Homo sapiens: one gene and its partners. The protein of the gene in region 1 purifies or fractionates together with the protein of each later gene. This does not show direct contact. Each region holds a gene or a part of one and is shown in the gene's direction. Other genes may lie near its edges. The genes, in order: MAP4, SLK and FLNB.

The links.
Region 2: the proteins of MAP4 (region 1) and SLK fractionate together in Homo sapiens (co-fractionation; 2 studies listed by BioGRID). This does not show direct contact.
Region 3: the proteins of MAP4 (region 1) and FLNB fractionate together in Homo sapiens (co-fractionation; 2 studies listed by BioGRID). This does not show direct contact.

Annotation. Positions count from the first base shown.
Region 1 is NC_000003.12:47,852,417-47,859,523, reverse strand, and holds part of MAP4 (microtubule-associated protein 4), read left to right. Parts: intron 1-2,011; coding exon 2,012-2,093; intron 2,094-4,163; coding exon 4,164-4,276; intron 4,277-6,171; coding exon 6,172-6,361; intron 6,362-6,466; coding exon of another isoform or gene 6,467-6,492; exon of another isoform or gene 6,493-6,585; coding exon 6,586-6,590; coding exon of another isoform or gene 6,591-6,732; 3' UTR 6,733-7,107. UniProt on the Homo sapiens protein: Non-neuronal microtubule-associated protein. Promotes microtubule assembly.
Region 2 is NC_000010.11:103,998,069-104,005,175, forward strand, and holds part of SLK (STE20-like serine/threonine-protein kinase), read left to right. Parts: intron 1-830; coding exon 831-903; intron 904-1,050; coding exon 1,051-1,245; intron 1,246-1,798; coding exon 1,799-1,880; intron 1,881-3,375; coding exon 3,376-3,504; intron 3,505-4,103; coding exon 4,104-5,459; intron 5,460-7,107. UniProt on the Homo sapiens protein: Mediates apoptosis and actin stress fiber dissolution.
Region 3 is NC_000003.12:58,165,361-58,172,467, forward strand, and holds the end of FLNB (filamin-B), read left to right. Parts: exon of another isoform or gene 1-755; intron 756-3,079; coding exon 3,080-3,298; intron 3,299-4,229; coding exon 4,230-4,433; intron 4,434-5,136; exon of another isoform or gene 5,137-5,214; coding exon 5,215-5,402; 3' UTR 5,403-6,416; coding exon of another isoform or gene 6,417-6,513; 3' UTR 6,514-6,710; coding exon of another isoform or gene 6,711-6,801; 3' UTR 6,802-6,891; downstream 6,892-7,107. Other genes in the region: uncharacterized protein LOC124909485, read left to right, coding at 6,417-6,513, 6,711-6,801. UniProt on the Homo sapiens protein: Connects cell membrane constituents to the actin cytoskeleton. May promote orthogonal branching of actin filaments and links actin filaments to membrane glycoproteins. Anchors various transmembrane proteins to the actin cytoskeleton.

The DNA of each region.
Region 1 (7,107 bases):
GGCATGAGCCAAGTTTTAGAGGAAAGATTGAGAATGGCTCTGGCAAGCTGGGGATTGTGGGTAGTTATTCTGTGCCAGGCCTTGGGCTGTGGGTGCAAATACAAAAATACTGGTGGCATTATATCTGTCCTCTGGAAACATGGTGAAGACTATATTTCCTGACACCAAAGAAGGGAAAACAGGGCTCAAGAAGGTAGCTCACCATTTAACAGCTTGTGGTGAAACCCACCAGAATGGTGCAACACTGCATGGAGTTGATGTGTTGGAAAGTCAGGCTCTCCCACAGTACCTACCAGAGGACAGCGGGGCCGCTCACAGGAATGCTGGAATCCCCATCCAGCAACCCAGAGGGCATGCATGGCTATAGACTTAAAGATGCACCACCTTTTTTTTTTGAGGCGGAGTCTCTTTCTGTTGCCCAGGCTGGAGTGCAGTGGCACGATCTCGGCTCACTGCAAGCTCTGCCTCCCGAGTTCATGCCATTCTCCTGCCTCAGCCTCCCGAGTACTGGGACTACAGGCACCTGCCACCACGCCCGGCTAATTTTTTTTGTATTTTTAGTAGAGACGGGGTTTCACCATGTTAGCCAGGATGGTCTCGATCTCCTGACCTCGTGATCCGCCCGCCTTAGCCTCCCAAAGTGCTGGGATTACAGGCGTGAGCCACCGTGCCCAGCCAAGGTGCACCACCTTTAAATGCAAATTTTTGCATTTTTAGTAGAGATAGAGTTTCACTGTGCTGGCCAGGCTGGTCTCAAACTCCTAGCCACAGGTGATCTGCCTGCCTCAGCCTCCCAAAGTGCTGGGATTACAGGCATGACCCACTGCACCTGGCTGGGAAAATTGTTATAACATGGATTAAGCAGGAATACTATGATTACACACACACACACACACACACACAACGCGCACACACACACACACACACACACACACACCACCCCCTCACCTCTCCCAAGGGGAAAATGCATTGAAAAGGACTAGAAGTAAATATGTTATTCCAGGTTCTCTGGGCAAGGAGTTGATAGGTAAGGATTTGAGATGGAATAAAGGGGATATTTCATGGGAGCCTTGGTGCTGGTGTTTGGACCTGGTGAAATGACAGAAGAGCTGTCTGGAGCATGCATGGACAGGGTCTGCACAGAAAGACCTGTGGGGTGTGGAAATGGTGGTTTGGTCTGGCTGGAGGTGGGGTTAGAAGTGAAGGCTGGTGGCCGGGCGTGGTGGCTCACACCTGTAATTCCAGCACTTTGGGATCCTGAGGCAGGCGGATCACCTGAGGTCAGGAGTTCGAGACCAGCCTGACCAATATGGAGAAACCCTGTCTCTACTAAAAATACAAAATTAGCTGGGCGTGGTGGCGCATGCCTGTAATCCTAGCTACTCCAGAGGCTGAGGCAGAAGAATCACTTGAACCCGGGAGATGGAGGCTGGGGTGAGCCAAGATCGTGCCAGCCTGGGCAACAAGAGTGAAACTCTGTCTTAAAAAAAAAAAAAAAAAAAGTGAAGGCCAGGCGTGGTGGCTCACGCCTGTAATCCCAACACTCTGGGCTCTGGAAATCTGAGGTGGGTGGATCTCCTGAGGTCAGGAGTTCGAGACCAGCCTGGCCAACATGGTGAAACCTTGTCTCTACTAAAAATACAAAAAATTAGCCAGATGTGGTGGTACACGCCTGTAATCCCAGCTACTCGGGAGGCTGAGGCAGGAGAATTGCTTGACCCCAGGAGGCGGAGGTTATAGCGAGCTGAGATCGTACCACTGTACTCCAGCCTGGGCAACAGAGCGAGACTCCATCTTTAAAAAAAAAAAAGGAAGTGAAGAGCAGGGCCAGGGTGGGTCGAGGGCTCTTTTAAGTACTTAGGGAGATGACCTTGTCTTTGACCAGACTGAGATAGCAGCTTACAGAGGGAGCGAGAAACCCTGAACATGGAGAAGATTTAAAAGGTAGCATGGGGTTGGCTCTGACAGTATACCTTCTCTCTGAATGAGTCTTTTGTGTCCTTCTCTTCAGGTTCAGATTCAGAACAAGAAAGTGGACATCTCTAAGGTCTCCTCCAAGTGTGGGTCTAAGGCTAACATCAAGCACAAGCCTGGTGAGTGGTGCCTCCCTTGCCCACTGGGTCTCCAGGGTATGTCGTCCTGCCATGGGTCAGCTGGGCAGCCAGCTGGCTGGCAAGGGTTTCATCTCTGTGCCTTTAGCATCCCATGAAGACTACCCAGGACACCACAGTCCTCATTCTGTCAGGGAGCAGGAGTTCGGGTGCTAACCTCTAAGTGGAGGAGGAGCAGTTTCTTACAGCAGCCATCTGCACAGGCATTCTCTTGAGTACCTACTGTGTGTGTGGAACTATTGAGCTAGGCCTGGGGAAGTGGTGCACTCTGAGCTGAGAACCTGGATTGGCTCTAAACGAGGATTACAGAAGCTACTGCTGAAGGAGCTGTATAGAGGGCAGTGTTCAGGTCCCACCTATCAGATGCAGGAGCAAAGGGTGCTCCCAACCAGTGAAGCATCAGCCGCTAGCCCTGGCAGGAGAATGGGAGGCGTTCAGCAACTTGCACTAATGCAGTTTCCTTCCAGCAACATGGTTGGCCCAGCGCCCCTGTGGAAGTCGCTGTGCGGAGGCTGGGCTCTTGCCTTGGGTAGTCCCCTAGCAGCCTCGTGTCCTAGTTCCTGGGTCTACAGCAGATTTGTGAGTAGGACTGCTGTAGCAGCAGGCACACTGGCTGGCAGACCTGGTATCCCAGAAGGCTAGCCACCACAGGCCAGATAAGGTGAAGGCAAAACTCTCTTCCCTCAGGGCGGGCGCGGTGTCTCATGCCTGTAATCCCAGCACTTTGGGAGGCCAAAGCGGGCGGATCACTTGAGGTCAGGAGTTTGAGAACAGCCTGGCCAACATGGTGAAACCCTGTCTCTACTAAAAATACAAAAACTAGCTAGGTGTGGTGGTGCATGCCTTTGGAGAATTGCTTGAACCCAGGAGGCAGAGACTACAGTGAGGCGAGAGTATGGCACTGCACTCCAGCCTGAGCAACAGAGCGAAATTCTGTCTCCAAAAAGAAAAAAAAAAAACTCCCTTTCCCTCTCAGCGAAGAGCATGATCCAGTTTAGAATGTGTTCTATTTAGAAAGATCAAAACAGTTCTGTCCTTAACTAACCATTTTTTTCCCCTTTTATCTGGGAAATCTCCTATCAGATACTTCCTTCTCTAATGACACTGAGTCACTTAGGGTCTAGTTTTTGCCAGGGCTGGGTTTCCCAATATGGGACACCGGGAGACCTCGGCCAGAAGCTGTGCGTGGAGGTCTGCCATGTGAGCTGAGAGGAGATGGAAGAACAGGAGAAGGGGCCCAAGGGAAACCACGCTGCTGGGCGCGGGAGGGGCTGGGTACTCATTGAGGGCAGCTCGTCCCGCACCCTTCCCCTTGGTCTCATGGGCACACTCTGGCCAGTGAGCTCTGAACCCTGGGCGTGAGTTCAGACCACTTTCCCTCCCCGTCCTAGCCTGAGGTCACTAGATCCCAGGCCTGCCTTGGTCCATGTCTTTCCTTCCTCAGCGCACAGCCTCGGGGCCACTCTGTCCTTTTTATTATTCCTTCTTTTTGCTAGAGTGTGGTACGGTTTAGGGTCTCAGACAATTTTCACAACCTGTCACTGTCAATCAGCAGATTGGTGGTAACTCTGGGTGAGTCCCTTCTCTTTTGCAGCATCAGTTTTACCGGCTGGGAAGCAGGGACCGTGGCCGTGATGACAGGGCATTCATGAGAATTCAGTGAGGCTGTGCCTGAGAAGCACTGCATGGCCCAGTTAGCGGGAGGGCATTCCCACACAGAGTAGAGAAGCAGAGGCTTCGCCCTGGAGGCTGTGCTCGGAGCCCCAGGCCTGCCCAAGCCTGGCCTGCAGCTCAGTGGCTGTGGCATGGGGTGGTGGAAGGGATGGCTTTCCTTTTCTTGGAGGTATTCCCACTGGCTGGACGGAGAGATTGTCTCAGCCTCACTGTGATATGAGAAGTCCTCTTTAGACAAACGTGTTCACTGTTCTTCATTTGCCACCCAGAACAGGTCACGTCTGTCTCATTTCTAGATTGGGCATATCGCTAGTCCTGGTTTTGCCTGCAGGGATATTCCTCTGCCACCCTAGGTGACCAGTTCCTTTGTGGTTCCAGGTGGAGGAGATGTCAAGATTGAAAGTCAGAAGTTGAACTTCAAGGAGAAGGCCCAGGCCAAGGTGGGATCCCTCGATAATGTGGGCCACCTACCTGCAGGAGGTGCTGTGAAGGTAGCGAGTGGGTCACTGGGGAGACACAGCTGGGGAGGGGTGGGAACTATGCAGTTAGGGTCAGGGTCCTCACAGGTAGGCACCTGTCACCGCCCCTCAGTCTCTTCAGGAGTCATGTCTTCACCCACACCATTGCCGTTTTCCCACCGTGTATCATCAGTCCTGACTGAGGCAGAAGTGAAGAGGCCCCAGCCCAGCCACCCCTCACCTGTCAGCTGGAGGCAGAACCTTGCTCCTGAGAGCCATGGCCTTCCTAATTGAGCCCATCCAGCCATTTGAGAAGGCCACGGACTGGGACACAGACCACCCCCAGGCGAGCGGGGGTTCTGCACCACACAGTTCTCCCCAGCTGTCTCGCGCCAAGGGGAATGTGGGTTCCCGCCCCATGTCAGGCTCCGCTCCTGGGTTAGGAGCAGGACAGCACATTCTTAGCTGCCAGCGACAGCAGGCTGCCTGGGGCCTCCCTCTGCAGGGCCTGCCTGGGGCCTCCCTCTGCAGGGCCTGCCTGGGGCCTCCCTCTGCAGGGCTCTGGGACAGAGCTCAAGTGGCAGAGGTTCCCATCCTCACGACTGGCTGGGCCTCTTCTCCCTTCCCTCTCTCCTCTTTCCTCCCTTCCTCCTTCCACAGTACTGTGAGACCTTTTGTGTGCCAAGATGCTGTCTGTCCTATGTTCCATGTCATCCGTGGGTGGGGGGCCCATGAGGGGCATCTTGCAGACCCCGAGCACAAGGATGGCTGCTGCTGCTCGGGTTCAGGTGCGCAGGGGAGAGGGGCCAGGAGCCGCTGCCCTGGGCCTTCCCTTCCATCTCTGCTCCCCAGTGCCAGCCACTGCCCAGCCCGTCCCCTGTCCCATCCTCTCCTGATGCTCTGACTGAAGCCTTGATCAGCTTCCAGGAACATCTGGGGGGGTCCTTGCTGCCACAGGCTCTCAGTTCGTGCCCCCCATACCTCGTGAGGATGCCGTTCTCACGCCCGTCTCAGTGGGGCGTTAACTTGGCTTTAGTCTCTTTTCCAAGGACACAGCGAGCGAGCGTGGACCAGGATTCACATCTGGGCTTTTCTGACCCTAAGCCTTGTGTTCTTTTCCTTGTTCACATTATATCCCTTTATTAGTTCTGGAATTATTGTTTTTAATCGAGGCCTATTTCTCACTATGCCGATTAGAAACCACTTCTCCCTTGTCACTTTTTGGGTATTTGGCGACACACGCTTTCCAGCTCCCCAGTGGCCTCTCGCAGCTGTTCTCTCTTCTCTGCCTTCCTCACACTGAGTGTTCCATGTCCCCCAAATGTCCTCCTCCTATGACGCCCTCCAGGCCTCCACAGTGTCCCTGGGTTATACCTCCTTGGACACCTTTCTGCCTCCCATGGACCCCTGGTCCCAGAATGGTGCCCCGCACAGACAAGGCCTCAGCACCTGTGTTCCTGACCAGACAGATGTGCAGGCAGGGCTGCCCGGGAGCTACTGAGGACCCCACTCTGTGTGCAGGGGGTGGCCTGGGTTCAGGGAGGGTTTGGGAGGGTGGGCTGTACCCTTCAGGGGGCTACCCTTCAGGCTTATTGCTTACTGTTGTCATGGCTACGTCTTTGGTACCAGCCTGAGGCCTGGCACCTCTGCCCTCAGAGAGGCTTCATCAGAGCCTCACATGCCACAGAGGGGCTCTGAGAGTGTGTCACTGGTCCAGCTGCTCCTGACCCTCGGGAGTCGGTCTCCCAGGTGAGGTGGGGTGGGTGGGGCCGGGGCACCTGCCTGGGATTCTCCAAGCGACTGTGCCTTGAGCCAGTGGGTGCCAGGGCAGCAAGGGTGGGGGCTGTGTGTGAAACCCACCACCATCACCCCATCCCACTCCCCCCCTCGACTGACCCTGCACTGTCTCCCCCACTGTTTCATTGTAGACTGAGGGCGGTGGCAGCGAGGCTCCTCTGTGTCCGGGTCCCCCTGCTGGGGAGGAGCCGGCCATCTCTGAGGCAGCGCCTGAAGCTGGCGCCCCCACTTCAGCCAGTGGCCTCAATGGCCACCCCACCCTGTCAGGGGGTGGTGACCAAAGGGAGGCCCAGACCTTGGACAGCCAGATCCAGGAGACAAGTAAGTGGCTGGGCTCGGCCTAAGGGCCAGCCAGGGGCCCTGCCACTGGCCGCAAATTGAAACTCCTTTGTTTTTGACTAGAGTGTGGCCTAAATTTTAATGAAGTAACCTTTTATTTTCCAGGCATCTAATGATGACATTCTGGTCTCGTCTTCCGTCTCCCCCGTGTTCCCCTCTTGTCTCCCCTGTTCCCCTCTCCCTTCCCTCCTCCCATGTCACTGCAGATTGAGACCTACAGGCTGACGTTCCGGGCAAATGCCAGGGCCCGCACCGACCACGGGGCCGACATTGTCTCCCGCCCCCCACACTTCCCTGGCGGCCCCAACTCGGGCTCCCGGGTCCTTGGCCCCCTTTCCCGGGCTGTCCACTAGACCAGTGAGCGCTTGGGCGCCGTGCTGGGCAGCCCGCTAGGCTCGCCTTCCCTCCTGCTTTGCGTGCCCGGGGCAGCAGCAGCCCTGCCCCACACCTCCTCTCACTCCCCAGCCTGGGCCCATCTCCCTGCTTTGGTCTTGCCCCATCACTGCGCCACTGCTCCGTGGAGGAGGTTGGGAGGGGGTTGGGGTGGTTGAGGCTAAGTTGGGATCTAGGAGAGGAGAACCAGATTCTATCCTCATCTTTTTTTGGTTCTTTGGTCCAAACCCAAAAGAAACTGACATGCCCTCCCTTCTCCCTGGATCTACCTGGAGGGAAGAGTGGAGGTGGATTCCGAGTGGTGACAGGACGCTGACCGTGGAGCTTAAGCCACT
Region 2 (7,107 bases), on another chromosome or scaffold:
GAACCATATAATAGATAAAAGTAATTCAGGCAGAATTGCATGACCTTTAAGAGTTCTACAACAAAAACAACAAAGGTTAGAATTGTGAATATGGCTAATAATAGCTACCATTTATTGAGTGTATACTCTGTGGTAGGCATGAGCATCAAATACTGAATTTTTGGTACTTATTCAACTTTGAGAATTGTCGCATCAAATGTGAAACTTAAAAATTCGTGCATTTATAGCATGAGGTGAATTATGCAGCAATAGCAGTTTTATGTTGCTGTTAATGTTGTGTGAACTCCAGGCTGAAAAGGTGGGATTAACAACTGAAAAAGCTATAATGTTACTGTTCTGTATAATTTAAATCAGAAAACATAAGGTTCCCAATTTTTTCTTGACAATATAATTTTATGAGGAATTTAGCAAGACATACACTGTCCTAAAGGTTGCTTTAGTATAATTTCTATTTTTCACACTATAGAAAAAATGTTAATGACTCTTAGTTTAATTGTGCCACATAGCACTAGTTGGCATTTATTTTGAAGTGGATAGACTGGTCTGCTTTTAGAGTTACCATTTTTTATTTTCAATTTTGGAGGATTTGTCATCTGAAGATAAGGTGGTATTAAATGTATTGATAATGGGATCTTTAGCAGGTTTTTTTGGGAGATGGTAGAAAGAGATGGTCAAGATTAAGATGGGAGAGACATCTTTTTCTTTCTGTTTAACTTACTTTTTATAATAAGATTAGCCTTATTAAAGACTTAAAATGCTTTTTCTCCCCATTGAATACAATGAACAATGCTTAAAAGTTCTCATTAATGCTTTTGTGTGATTATTTCAAGCGGATTTTGGAGTATCAGCTAAAAACACGAGGACAATTCAAAGAAGAGATTCCTTTATTGGTACACCATATTGGTATGTATTCAGTTTTATGAATTTATAGTATTAGTCATGTCAGCAGTTATAATTACTCATGAATTTTTGTCCACATAATTGATTATACCATGTGTTTTGCAATCACTGTTCTTAAACATGTTAACTTTTAATTATCTGTCTTCATAGGATGGCTCCTGAAGTAGTCATGTGTGAAACATCTAAGGACAGACCCTATGACTACAAAGCTGATGTTTGGTCCCTGGGTATCACTTTAATAGAAATGGCTGAGATAGAACCACCTCATCATGAATTAAATCCAATGCGAGTGCTGCTAAAAATAGCAAAATCTGAGCCACCTACATTAGCACAGCCATCCAGATGGTAAAAATATTCTTAAAAAAGCTTAATAAGAAACAAATGATACTAGGAAGCAGAACTTGATGTTATATTCTCACAATTTTCCAAGAGTATTTAAAATTGGATACATGGTTCGAAGACTATATGAATTAGAAAAGTGATTTTTGGTATATTTCTCTTAAAGACCATTAAAACTCTTCGAGCTCACTTTTCCCATATATCTGAAAATATGAATGATTTGAGTTTTGCATGAGAAAGGTATTTTCTGTACTATGAGGAAGTGAGGTATATAGATTGATCTATATTTGTGAAATTTATTAGAAATTTTGTGCTTTTTGGCATACTTGTGAGTATATGGCTGTCTCAGTGATTATGTACCTACTTACATATATGTCTAACATGTATTTACAGATGAATAAGTTTTACAAAATCTTAATAGTCTCATTAACTAGTTATTTAAATGTTGAATTAATACTATTACATACATAATGAAACTTAAGCATAACTTATCAAAGAGTTTTGTTTAATTTGATTAACAAGAAAGTAAAATAGAATGTTGTTAAAATTTATTTTAAAGGTCTTCAAATTTTAAGGACTTTCTAAAGAAATGCTTAGAAAAGAATGTGGATGCCAGGTGGACTACATCTCAGCTGCTGCAGGTAAGAGAGTATGACAACAGCAAATAATATAATTATTTTAACATCTAAGAATGTAATTTCATATTCAGTGTGCTTTCTTTCCACTTAAATTTCCCTGTGGAGAGTCAAAATGGCAGTAGTTAACATTTGCTTTACAAAATAAATGCTGCTGTTACCATCAGGCATTTAGCTTAAACGTTATTCCTCCTGTGCTTTTTTGATTCAGTTTAATTATGTTCTTTTCATTTTGGTAGTTATTTCCATTATGTCTCTCCAGTTACTAGAAAGCAAGCTCCTTGGGGACAGGGGCCGTGAACTAATTAATTAAAAAATGTCTTACAGTGAGGGTAAATAGTAAATATTGTTGACTTAAAAAAATGTTGTTAAAGCGATTGGGTAAATTTAATTTTGCTTTATAGAAGGACTACTTGTAATATATTAATTAAAAATTGTCAATTTTATAGGTGGGCAAATAAAATGACAAATCTTGAGGCAATTACTGTTAGGTTATTATGTAACTCCATCATAGTGTTTTAGGTTGACCTATTTATCTGGGGGAATAAAGCAGGAAAAAATTGCTTTGTTGTGTGCAGCAAGTATACCCCTGGAACACACTTTCTATTATTATTTTGTTACCCCCACACTTGAAGCCCTTAGTCTGCGACAGACACTGTTAAATGTTGAGTATACAAAGATGAGTAAAATGGCTTCTCATTCTCAAGAATTTTAGAACCATGTCAAAAATACAGGTGTTTATAGATACTTCTAACAGAATTCTAAAGCTTTTTATAATTTTGAGGCTTTGATAGGGTTTATAGAGATGGTTACTTTTTAAGAAGTAATAATGAGGCCAGGTGTAGTGGCTCATGCCTGTAATCCCAGCACTTTGGGAGGCCGAGGCGGGTGGATCACCTGAGGTCAGGAGTTCCAGACCAGCCTGGCCAATATAGTGAAACCCTGTCTCTACTAAAAATACAAAAAATCAGCCGGGCATGGTGGCACATGCCTGTAATCTTAGCTACTCGGGAGGCTGAGGCAGGAGAATCTCTTGAACCTGGGAGATGGAGATTGCAGTAAGTTGAAATCGTGCCACTGCCTTCTAGCCTGAGTGATAGAGTGAGACTCCGTCTCAAAAAAAAAAAAAAAAAAAAAAAAAAAAGTAATAATGTAGTGACCTGACATTTGCTTTAAATTTCAATTAAAATTTTTTATTACGAAGTTTTCAAACACACAGAAAGTACATGTACCTACTACCCAGATATAACAATTCTTATCATTTTTGATAAATTTGCTTCAGATTCTTAAAAATGTACAGATCCAGTTGCAGGTAGTCCCTGCTTTTGCTCAAGCCCTCTCCCCTCTTTCTTTCTCAGATGTAGCATTATCTGAAGTTTTCTGTCATTTTCCTGCCCACATGTTCATATTTTTTACCACATAAGAATGTGTGTTGTGTGTGTTTGAAACTTAGTTTAGTAGTATTCCAGTTGTTGAGTATGTTCTTTTTAATGATCAACAGCATCCCTTTGTTACTGTTGATTCCAACAAACCCATCCGAGAATTGATTGCAGAGGCGAAGGCTGAAGTAACAGAAGAAGTTGAAGATGGCAAAGAGGAAGATGAAGAGGAGGAAACAGAAAATTCTCTGGTCAGTATTTAGGAAAGAAATTTCATTTAGTGAATAGAGTTCGGTTTTGAGGTGTAGTTGCTCCTGTATCTAAGGATTGATGGGTGGCAACGCAAAACCTTTAAATTTAGACCTGAAGATTAGTAGCAAGGTTGCTCGTCGCTGCACATTTTTGTTATATTTCCCTTTTTTTTGAGATGGAGTCTCACTCTGTCACCCAGGTTGGAGTGCAGTGGTCACTACAACCTCTGCCTCCCGGTGTCAGGTGGTTCTTGGGCCTCAGCCTCCCGAGTAGCTGGGACTACAGGCATGCGCCACCACACCCAACTAATTTTTGTATTTTTAGTAGAGATGGGGTTTCACCATGTTGGCCAGGCTAGTCTCGAACTCCTGACCTCAAGTGATCTTCCCTCCTCGGTCTCCCAAAGTGCTGGGATTACAGGTGTGTGCCACCGCACCCGGCCCATTTTTGTTATATTTCTTGTGAGAAGAATTGTTAATTCTTTAAATTCAGCAACATTTACTGAATAAAGATCTGAAATCACTGTAGGTCTGTAAACATTGTTTTGGTCACTCTAAGGTCATGTTTTAACACTAAAAATACATTAAATCTTTTTTAGCCAATACCTGCAAGTAAGCGTGCATCTTCTGACCTTAGTATCGCCAGCTCTGAAGAAGATAAACTTTCACAAAATGCTTGTATTTTGGAGTCTGTCTCAGAAAAAACAGAACGTAGTAACTCTGAAGATAAACTCAACAGCAAAATTCTTAATGAAAAACCCACCACTGATGAACCTGAAAAGGCTGTGGAGGATATTAATGAACATATTACCGATGCTCAGTTAGAAGCAATGACTGAACTCCATGACAGAACAGCAGTAATCAAGGAGAATGAAAGAGAGAAGAGGCCCAAGCTTGAAAATCTGCCTGACACAGAAGACCAAGAAACTGTGGACATTAATTCAGTCAGTGAAGGAAAAGAGAATAATATAATGATAACCTTAGAAACAAATATTGAACATAATCTAAAATCTGAGGAAGAAAAGGATCAGGAAAAGCAACAGATGTTTGAAAATAAGCTTATAAAATCTGAAGAAATTAAAGATACTATTTTGCAAACAGTAGATTTAGTTTCTCAAGAGACTGGAGAAAAAGAGGCAAATATTCAGGCAGTTGATAGTGAAGTTGGGCTTACAAAGGAAGACACCCAAGAGAAATTGGGGGAAGACGACAAAACTCAAAAAGATGTGATCAGCAATACAAGTGATGTGATAGGAACATGTGAGGCAGCAGATGTGGCTCAGAAAGTGGATGAAGACAGTGCTGAGGATACGCAGAGTAATGATGGGAAAGAAGTGGTCGAAGTAGGCCAGAAATTAATTAATAAGCCCATGGTGGGTCCTGAGGCTGGTGGTACTAAGGAAGTTCCTATTAAAGAAATAGTTGAAATGAATGAAATAGAAGAAGGTAAAAATAAGGAACAAGCAATAAACAGTTCAGAGAACATAATGGACATCAATGAGGAACCAGGAACAACTGAAGGTGAAGAAATCACTGAGTCAAGTAGCACTGAAGAAATGGAGGTCAGAAGTGTGGTGGCTGATACTGACCAAAAGGCTTTAGGAAGTGAAGTTCAGGATGCTTCTAAAGTCACTACTCAGATAGATAAAGAGAAAAAAGAAATTCCAGTGTCAATTAAAAAAGAGCCTGAAGTTACTGTAGTTTCACAGCCCACTGAACCTCAGCCTGTTCTAATACCCAGTATTAATATCAACTCTGACAGTGGAGAAAATAAAGAAGAAATAGGTTCTTTATCAAAAACTGAAACTATTCTGCCACCAGAATCTGAGAATCCAAAGGAAAATGATAATGATTCAGGCACTGGTTCCACTGCTGATACTAGCAGTATTGACTTGAATTTATCCATCTCTAGCTTTCTAAGTAAAACTAAAGACAGTGGATCGATATCTTTACAAGTAAGTGTACATGAGTCATTGTTTGGGTTTTCCTTTGCCATTTTCTCAATTCAGAGTTTATGTGAAATTGATGTCTTGAAAATAAAACAGCATTAAATTAATGTAGTATTAACAATATAAATTCTTACAGCCTATGAAAGCAATTAAAAAGAACTAAGGAGATTGTGGATCTAATCTTTAAATTTTGTGGTAGGATCTACCTATTTTTGCAGACCTGATGCAGATAAACAGTGTAATATGGTTGCTTGGTGTGATTAGGTTCCTTTATTGGACATATCTAGATGCAACATTAGCAAGAATCAACAATGTATGAGAGAATTAGAAATTGAAAGAATGATGTCTTTTTAAGCACATTTAGGGTGTAAACAATCCTTGATTTACCATTGGCCCATACAGTCACAGACATTGCTACTGCCATGAGAACCATTGTGGGGAAAACAAAACAAACACTAAAGCCCAGAACACTTGGAGCTTTGAGTGTAATTCTCAAATTTTAGTGTGCTTAGGAGTTACTAGCGGCTATGTAGAAGTCTGGAGTGGGTCCCAAGGATCACTATTTGTAAAAAAAAAAGATCCCACAGAGTTCTGATGCAGGTGATCCATGGGCTGCCCCTTGGAAAATACTTCCTAGACCCTCTGGGTTGATAGTAGCAGAAGAGAAGACAGAAAAGCAGGAACAACCTAAGAAAACTGACATAGATGGATCTCTAGGGCATGAGTGATTAGTCTGCCTATCTGCCCCAAATTCCTAGGATTTTCTTACATGTATTCCTAGGATTTTCTTCTTTTTTCAGTTTACTTTCTTTCACTGACTGAAATAACCACCACTCTGAAATTCATTCACTGACTTAATAGCCTCTTTTAAAAATGCAAATAACTTGTATAAGAATGAAGAAGATATTAATTATTGAACTTTTAGTAGGAGCTGAAGAAATGTGAAGTTTGGAGGTTAAGGTGTAGATAGGTGTATTTTTTGGAGTCTGCCAACTTTAGATTTTAGAGGAATCCTGGGTAGGGTACCATAGTCCTGGACTTTGGAAGAAGAGCATGAGGATCCTGGAAGCTTGGAGAAGAGAACAGTAAGAGGAGAGGATGCAGAAAGGTGATTGGAAGGTGCCAAAGAGAAACTGTTTAAAATTTGGATGCATTTTGAGTTTAGCATTTTCACATTCCATTTTTGCTTCCTCTGCCTTCTAACCCTTTCTTCCATATCAACACCCAGTAAGTATCTGCCCTGAACACTTAGTTTACCAAAATGTATTTGTAGGAGTCTTATATGTCTGTTATTTCTGTTTGCATTTAAATGTTTTTGGATACCAGTTGAGGAATGAAGAGTTTAGTCTTAATAAAGAATTTTAGGTCATAGCTAGCAGCCAAATCTGGTACTTTTGGGTGCAGCAGAGGCACTGTCTTTCTAGTAACCCTAAAATCATACATATATCTCTGGCCCTGAGATGGAGGGAGGGGCTGTCGATATTATTGTTACTGATTAAGTAGATTTTGATCCCCAGTGCTGGCAGTGTTTAAAAATTACCTGAGAGCTTTTTCAAAAAAAAGAGATTTCCAGCTACCCTCAGACCTGTCAATTTAGTTTTTTTTTAAGAGATGAGCCCCACAAATTCATTTTTAATTGTTTTGTCAGTGAAAA
Region 3 (7,107 bases), about 10 Mb from region 1:
ACAGAACCGCCTGCTTCAAACCCTGTGTAAATATTGCTCTTGTCACAGGGAAGGCGCCTTGTTTTTCCAGCCCTCCTGCTCCCAAGCCTTTCCCTAAATATCCATTCTGAGATTACACAGCTGCAGTGTGCATGGAATGAAAAGGTATCTGTGCTTGGCCGCCAGAGCGCCCAGTATCCTGACCTTCTGAACAAAGCAAACCTCCCTCTGTTTTTAATGGGTGAGTTTGCTGTATCTCTTGGCTCAAGCTTTAAATGGTCCATTCTGTAGATTTTGGAGTAGGGGAATGTGGAGAATTTGGGGCGGGACCCTGCTGGAGGCGGCTTGAGAGGCTGGGAGATAGACCAGGGAGCTCCAGATTCTTTGGAGCCGCTGAGCAATTTTCCTAATGAAATGGTCCAGGAACCCCAGTGTGCTCGGGGTATACCAGAAGGGCCTCCTTCCTTAACTGCCTTGAAGAACAAGCAGTGCTGCGTTTAACATGCATTAAACTCACAGGAACTGAGCTGGACATATTTGAGGGGGTGGGGGAAGACCGCCACGCCCAGAGATGTTTTGTGGTGTCAGATACAGGTTATAGCTAGAGGCAGTGGTGAGAGACTTCTGCTTGTGGATTTTTTTCCTTCCATCTTCTCTCAGGTAAGTGCTTTAGCTCCAAGTTGGACAGACTTTATGTTTAAATCCCAGTTCTGCTGGTCCCCAGCTGTGTGACTCCAGATGAATTATCTGACTTCACTGTGCCTCTGCTTCCTTTCCTGTAAAACAGGATTAATAACAGGACCCACCTAATAGGCTTGTTTGGAGCTGTAGAGGAGGTAACAGCCAAGTAGTAGCTCTTGTCCCATAACCCCTGCTTTCTCTTTTCCCACCTCGTCTTCCCTGCCCTTTTGGGCCCTCACAGTCAAGATGAACTGATTTTTGGTTGGTCAAAATATTGCATTAGGGCCAAATGGGTGCGGTGGCTCATGCCTGTAATCAAAGCACTTTGGAAGGCCAAGGCAGAAAGATTGTTTGAGGCCAAGAGTTTGAGACCAGCCTGGGTGACATAGTAAAACTCCATCTCTACCAAAAAAAAAAATTTTTAAAGACGAACTTAGGAATGAAACAGCTTGTTAAAAAATGGTGGAACTTTCCCCTGCAGCCACATCATTTCAACTTCACTTTAAAAATATCTTTTTGGCCTGGCACAGTGGCTCACACCTGTAATCCCAGCACTTTGGGAGGTGGAGGTGGGAGGATCACTTGAGCCTAGGAGTTTGAGACCAGCCCAGGCAACACAGCAAAACCCCATCTCTACAAAAAAATTTAAAAATTAGCCAGGCGTGGTGGTGCATGCCTGAAGTCCCAGCTACTTTGGAGGCTGAGGCAGGAGGATGGCTTGAGCCTGGAAGATTGACGCTGTGGTGAGCTGTGATCATGCCACCGTACTCCAGCCTGGGCAACAGAGGAAGACTTTATCTAAAAAAAAAAATATTAGTAATAAGGCCGGGTGCGTTGGCTCATGCCTGTAATCCTAGCACTTTGGGAGACCAAGGTGGGCAGATCACTTGAGGTCAGGAGCTCAAGACCAGCCTGGCCAACATGGTGAGACCCCATCTCTACTAAAGAAATACAAAAATTAGCTGGGCATGGTGGCGAGTGCCTGTAATCCCAGCTAATCAGGAAGCTGAAGCAGGAGAATCGCTTGAACCTGGGAGGCGGAGGTTGCAATAAGCCAAGATCATGGTACTGCACTCCAGCCTGGGCAACAGAGCGAGACTCTATCTCAATCAATCAATCAATAAAATATCTTTCCTTATCATCACCTTACAGCTGCTTCCTGGATGGACACACTGTCTCCTTGTTGCTCACCTCCCGCTTCTTCCCTACGTAGCCCCAGGCCTCAGAGCTGCTGCTTGAGGGGCTTCTTGGCTGCACAGATTAGATACCATGATGAGGTTGAGATAGTGTTGGGGGTGGACCTTGGGGCAGGAGCCTCAAGAGCTTCCAGGAACAGCTGGGTTGTGTTTGAGAGTTGCACGATAGCAGCTCTTTTGTTTTTATTGATATCCAGAACAATAATTCTTTCTCTGGACTAGGAGCTATAATTAAACCAAAATATTTCCCAGCTGGGGCAGTGTCTAGGGCTCTGGCAGAAGCATAGCCCTGCATGGGGATGCTATGCCAGGCATGCCCCATAGAGGGCACTGTAGCAGGCATGCGCCAGACCTGATGACTGAAGGAGGCTCTCCCTGGGCCAGCTAAGTTGTCTCAGGGCTGCAGTTAGGGGATCTGAGGCAGCTCCACTGCCCATCCAGGGGTCAAGAGATGAGCCTGGCACCAGAGCCATGCAGACATGGTTCAAACCCGGCTCTACCACTTTCTGGTTGTGTAGCGTGACTGGCCCCCTCCCTGAGCCGCAGAGTCATTTGTGAAGCAGGAATCACGGAAAGGATTCCATACCACATGCGTAAATGGTGCTGTGCACAGGACCTGGAGCCGGAGTGGGGTACGCATGCCCCGTCAGCGGGAGCTGCTGTTCTGTTCCTGTGCTTGTTGCTGGAATTCACGGCAAAGTGGGTGGGCTGGCAGGTCACAGTGGCTGCACCCGGTCTGCAGCACAGTGCCTGGGGTGAGGGCTGAGGAGGAAGGGAGGAGATGCTTGGCCTCCCTGGCTTCTCCAAGTCTACCCGGAGAAGAAAGGACAGTCAGAGGGGCCCACGCCTCCCCCACACCCCTGGAGGGAGAGCTGGACTCTGGTGGCTGAAGCAGCACTTCAGGCTCACAGTGTGACTCAGGCTTCTTGCCCTCAGCCACAATGGCTCATGCCCAGAGGAGAGAACAGGGTGTCCAGGCTGTTGGTGCTTGTGGGCGAAATGTCAGCCATGCTCCTCCTGCCTTGGCCTAGAAAAGGGAGCCCCCACCCCGCAGGGCCTGAGGTTCTCTCTGCCAGAAGTTCAGAGCTAGTGCCAGTGGGTTCCCATGCCACCAGGGTGAGCCCTCTGTAAGGGGATCTATGTGTGTCCCTCACCACGGCCTCAGTGCTCCCAGGAAAGCCCTCCAAGTCATCAACACAGCATTTTCTATTCCTTTCTCCCAGGTATCCAGTCGGAATTCTTTATTAACACCACCCGAGCAGGTCCAGGGACATTATCCGTCACCATCGAAGGCCCATCCAAGGTTAAAATGGATTGCCAGGAAACACCTGAAGGGTACAAAGTCATGTACACCCCCATGGCTCCTGGTAACTACCTGATCAGCGTCAAATACGGTGGGCCCAACCACATCGTGGGCAGTCCCTTCAAGGCCAAGGTGACAGGTAACGAACAACCACCTTCGGAGTTACTCTCCCTTCCTGGGGAGCTGGTTGTGTCAGATCAATCATAGTGGAAACTATGGATGGTTTTAGATGTGTTAAAGCTACTTTGAACTTTGAATGTCAGTAAATAGTATGAGATGTCAGAGGGCAGTGTTTGAAACTTACAAAAGTCCACAGAGTGGAGCCGTGCAGAAGTTGAGAAAGCATGTTAGGATGTTAGGTGGTTTTCTATCTCTAACAGGAAAGAATACATATTGAAATCTTACGTATTTGTTTAGATCAGGGTCTGAAAAATCCCCTGATTTCTAATTTTCACTTGAAAAATAATCAAAAAGTTTTCCTATACTTATAAAAATGTGTCTCCTCCAAAACACTGGAAAAAATACCAAACTATGAAAACCACTTCACAGCCACCACCCAAGGTAACCACCATAAACACTGTAGTAAATCCCTTCCACACGTCATGATTCACTGTTACATAAAGAATGTAGGTTCATCGCAGGAAAATTAGAAAATTCAGATAGAAAAATCATCCTTTCTCATCCACAGAATCATTTTTTGATATTTCATTATATGTCATCCCAAACTTTTACACTGCTTATACATAGACTATTTTATGTCAATAGAAAGATGTGAATTCCACAGGCACATCTTTGGTGGGTAGGGGGTGGGGGGATTGGGAGGGTCCTTGGCCTTGTCAGCCAAGGCCAGACTCATCCATTTGCCCAGAAAGCCAGATCCTAGTTGTATGGGGGTGGGATCCTAGGGGTTTAGAAGACATTATGGGTGTGAGATACAGGTGTGGTGGCTTTTGTGTTGGGGTGCGCGGGCTCTCCTGGGGTTACTGTGTAGGGTACTCGCCTGTCCTCTGGCTGAGAGACCCCTCTTGATCTGGCCATTCATGCCTGTCCCCCTCCCTCCTGTATCTTAGGCCAGCGTCTAGTTAGCCCTGGCTCAGCCAACGAGACCTCATCCATCCTGGTGGAGTCAGTGACCAGGTCGTCTACAGAGACCTGCTATAGCGCCATTCCCAAGGCATCCTCGGACGCCAGCAAGGTGACCTCTAAGGGGGCAGGGCTCTCAAAGGCCTTTGTGGGCCAGAAGAGTTCCTTCCTGGTGGACTGCAGCAAAGCTGGTAGGTGTCTGGGCCTTTTCAAGGGTGGGGTGGGGCAGGGGCAGGCTGGGCACCCTGGGTACACTGGCCTTCCCTGCTGAGGTCTCCTGCAGTGCCCACCCCCATGTAGGCCAGCCGTTTGCAAGTAACCATCGTCATGACCCTGTTCTCCTGCACTTAATATTTTTAAATGATTTCCTTCTCTTTTGCCTTTTGAACTTGGGTATTTATTTGGGTTTCAAGGGTCGGTTGCCTGGGTTCTGGCATCCAGTACACCTGGGCTGGAAACCTAGTACCGCCACTTCATTCATTCATTCGTTTGTTCTAAAACTTATTTAGCCATGTGACCTTGGAAAGTTATTAAATCTCTTTCCAAAAGTCAGTTTCCTCTTCTCGGAAGTACCTTCCTTAAGGTGCTTGTGAGAGTAAACAAGAAGATTCTCATAGCCAACACTTAGAATAGCCCTTACTGTGTGCTAGGTTTTGACACCCATAACTCTTAAACCTCACAACTAGTTCGTGAGGTATGTGCTGTTCTCATTCCCTGTTTACAGATGGGGAAGCTGAGCTAGGGAGAGGTGAGATTCCAGTCCAAGGTCACCCAGGTAGCAAGTGGCAGGGCAGGGATTCGAACCCACACCGTCAGGCTCTATGAGCCTCTGCTTGTAATTGCCACGCTCTCCCACCTCTTAGGGGCCCCAGCATTATCGTGGAAGCACCTTACCTTTGGCTCTCATATTTCCTCTTCTTCCTGTGCCTGTCCTGATGCATCCGGGTGGAGTAACCACCTTTTGCCTCCTAGGCTCCAACATGCTGCTGATCGGGGTCCATGGGCCCACCACCCCCTGCGAGGAGGTCTCCATGAAGCATGTAGGCAACCAGCAATACAACGTCACATACGTCGTCAAGGAGAGGGGCGATTATGTGCTGGCTGTGAAGTGGGGGGAGGAACACATCCCTGGCAGCCCTTTTCATGTCACAGTGCCTTAAAACAGTTTTCTCAAATCCTGGAGAGAGTTCTTGTGGTTGCTTTTGTTGCTTGTTTGTAATTCATTTTATACAAAGCCCTCCAGCCTGTTTGTGGGGCTGAAACCCCATCCCTAAAATATTGCTGTTGTAAAATGCCTTCAGAAATAAGTCCTAGACTGGACTCTTGAGGGACATATTGGAGAATCTTAAGAAATGCAAGCTTGTTCAGGGGGCTGAGAAGATCCTGAGTACACTAGGTGCAAACCAGAACTCTTGGTGGAACAGACCAGCCACTGCAGCAGACAGACCAGGAACACAATGAGACTGACATTTCAAAAAAACAAAACTGGCTAGCCTGAGCTGCTGGTTCACTCTTCAGCATTTATGAAACAAGGCTAGGGGAAGATGGGCAGAGAAAAAGGGGACACCTAGTTTGGTTGTCATTTGGCAAAGGAGATGACTTAAAATCCGCTTAATCTCTTCCAGTGTCCGTGTTAATGTATTTGGCTATTAGATCACTAGCACTGCTTTACCGCTCCTCATCGCCAACACCCCCATGCTCTGTGGCCTTCTTACACTTCTCAGAGGGCAGAGTGGCAGCCGGGCACCCTACAGAAACTCAGAGGGCAGAGTGGCAGCCAGGCCCACATGTCTCTCAAGTACCTGTCCCCTCGCTCTGGTGATTATTTCTTGCAGAATCACCACACGAGACCATCCCGGCAGTCATGGTTTTGCTTTAGTTTTCCAAGTCCGTTTCAGTCCCTTCCTTGGTCTGAAGAAATTCTGCAGTGGCGAGCAGTTTCCCACTTGCCAAAGATCCCTTTTAACCAACACTAGCCCTTGTTTTTAACACACGCTCCAGCCCTTCATCAGCCTGGGCAGTCTTACCAAAATGTTTAAAGTGATCTCAGAGGGGCCCATGGATTAACGCCCTCATCCCAAGGTCCGTCCCATGACATAACACTCCACACCCGCCCCAGCCAACTTCATGGGTCACTTTTTCTGGAAAATAATGATCTGTACAGACAGGACAGAATGAAACTCCTGCGGGTCTTTGGCCTGAAAGTTGGGAATGGTTGGGGGAGAGAAGGGCAGCAGCTTATTGGTGGTCTTTTCACCATTGGCAGAAACAGTGAGAGCTGTGTGGTGCAGAAATCCAGAAATGAGGTGTAGGGAATTTTGCCTGCCTTCCTGCAGACCTGAGCTGGCTTTGGAATGAGGTTAAAGTGTCAGGGACGTTGCCTGAGCCCAAATGTGTAGTGTGGTCTGGGCAGGCAGACCTTTAGGTTTTGCTGCTTAGTCCTGAGGAAGTGGCCACTCTTGTGGCAGGTGTAGTATCTGGGGCGAGTGTTGGGGGTAAAAGCCCACCCTACAGAAAGTGGAACAGCCCGGAGCCTGATGTGAAAGGACCACGGGTGTTGTAAGCTGGGACACGGAAGCCAAACTGGAATCAAACGCCGACTGTAAATTGTATCTTATAACTTATTAAATAAAACATTTGCTCCGTAAAGTTGCCTTGGTGTTCTTGGATGATGTCGCTTCTGAATAAATTGTTTAATCCTAGGAGTTCAACACCCTCAGCCTGGGTAACAGCAAGACCCAGCCTCTACAAAAAATTAAAAAATTAGCCAGCATGGTGATGCATGCCTGCAGTCCCAGCTACTCAGGAGGCGGAGGCAGGAGGATTGCTTGAGCCTGAGAGGCCAAGGTTGCAGTGAGCTGTGTT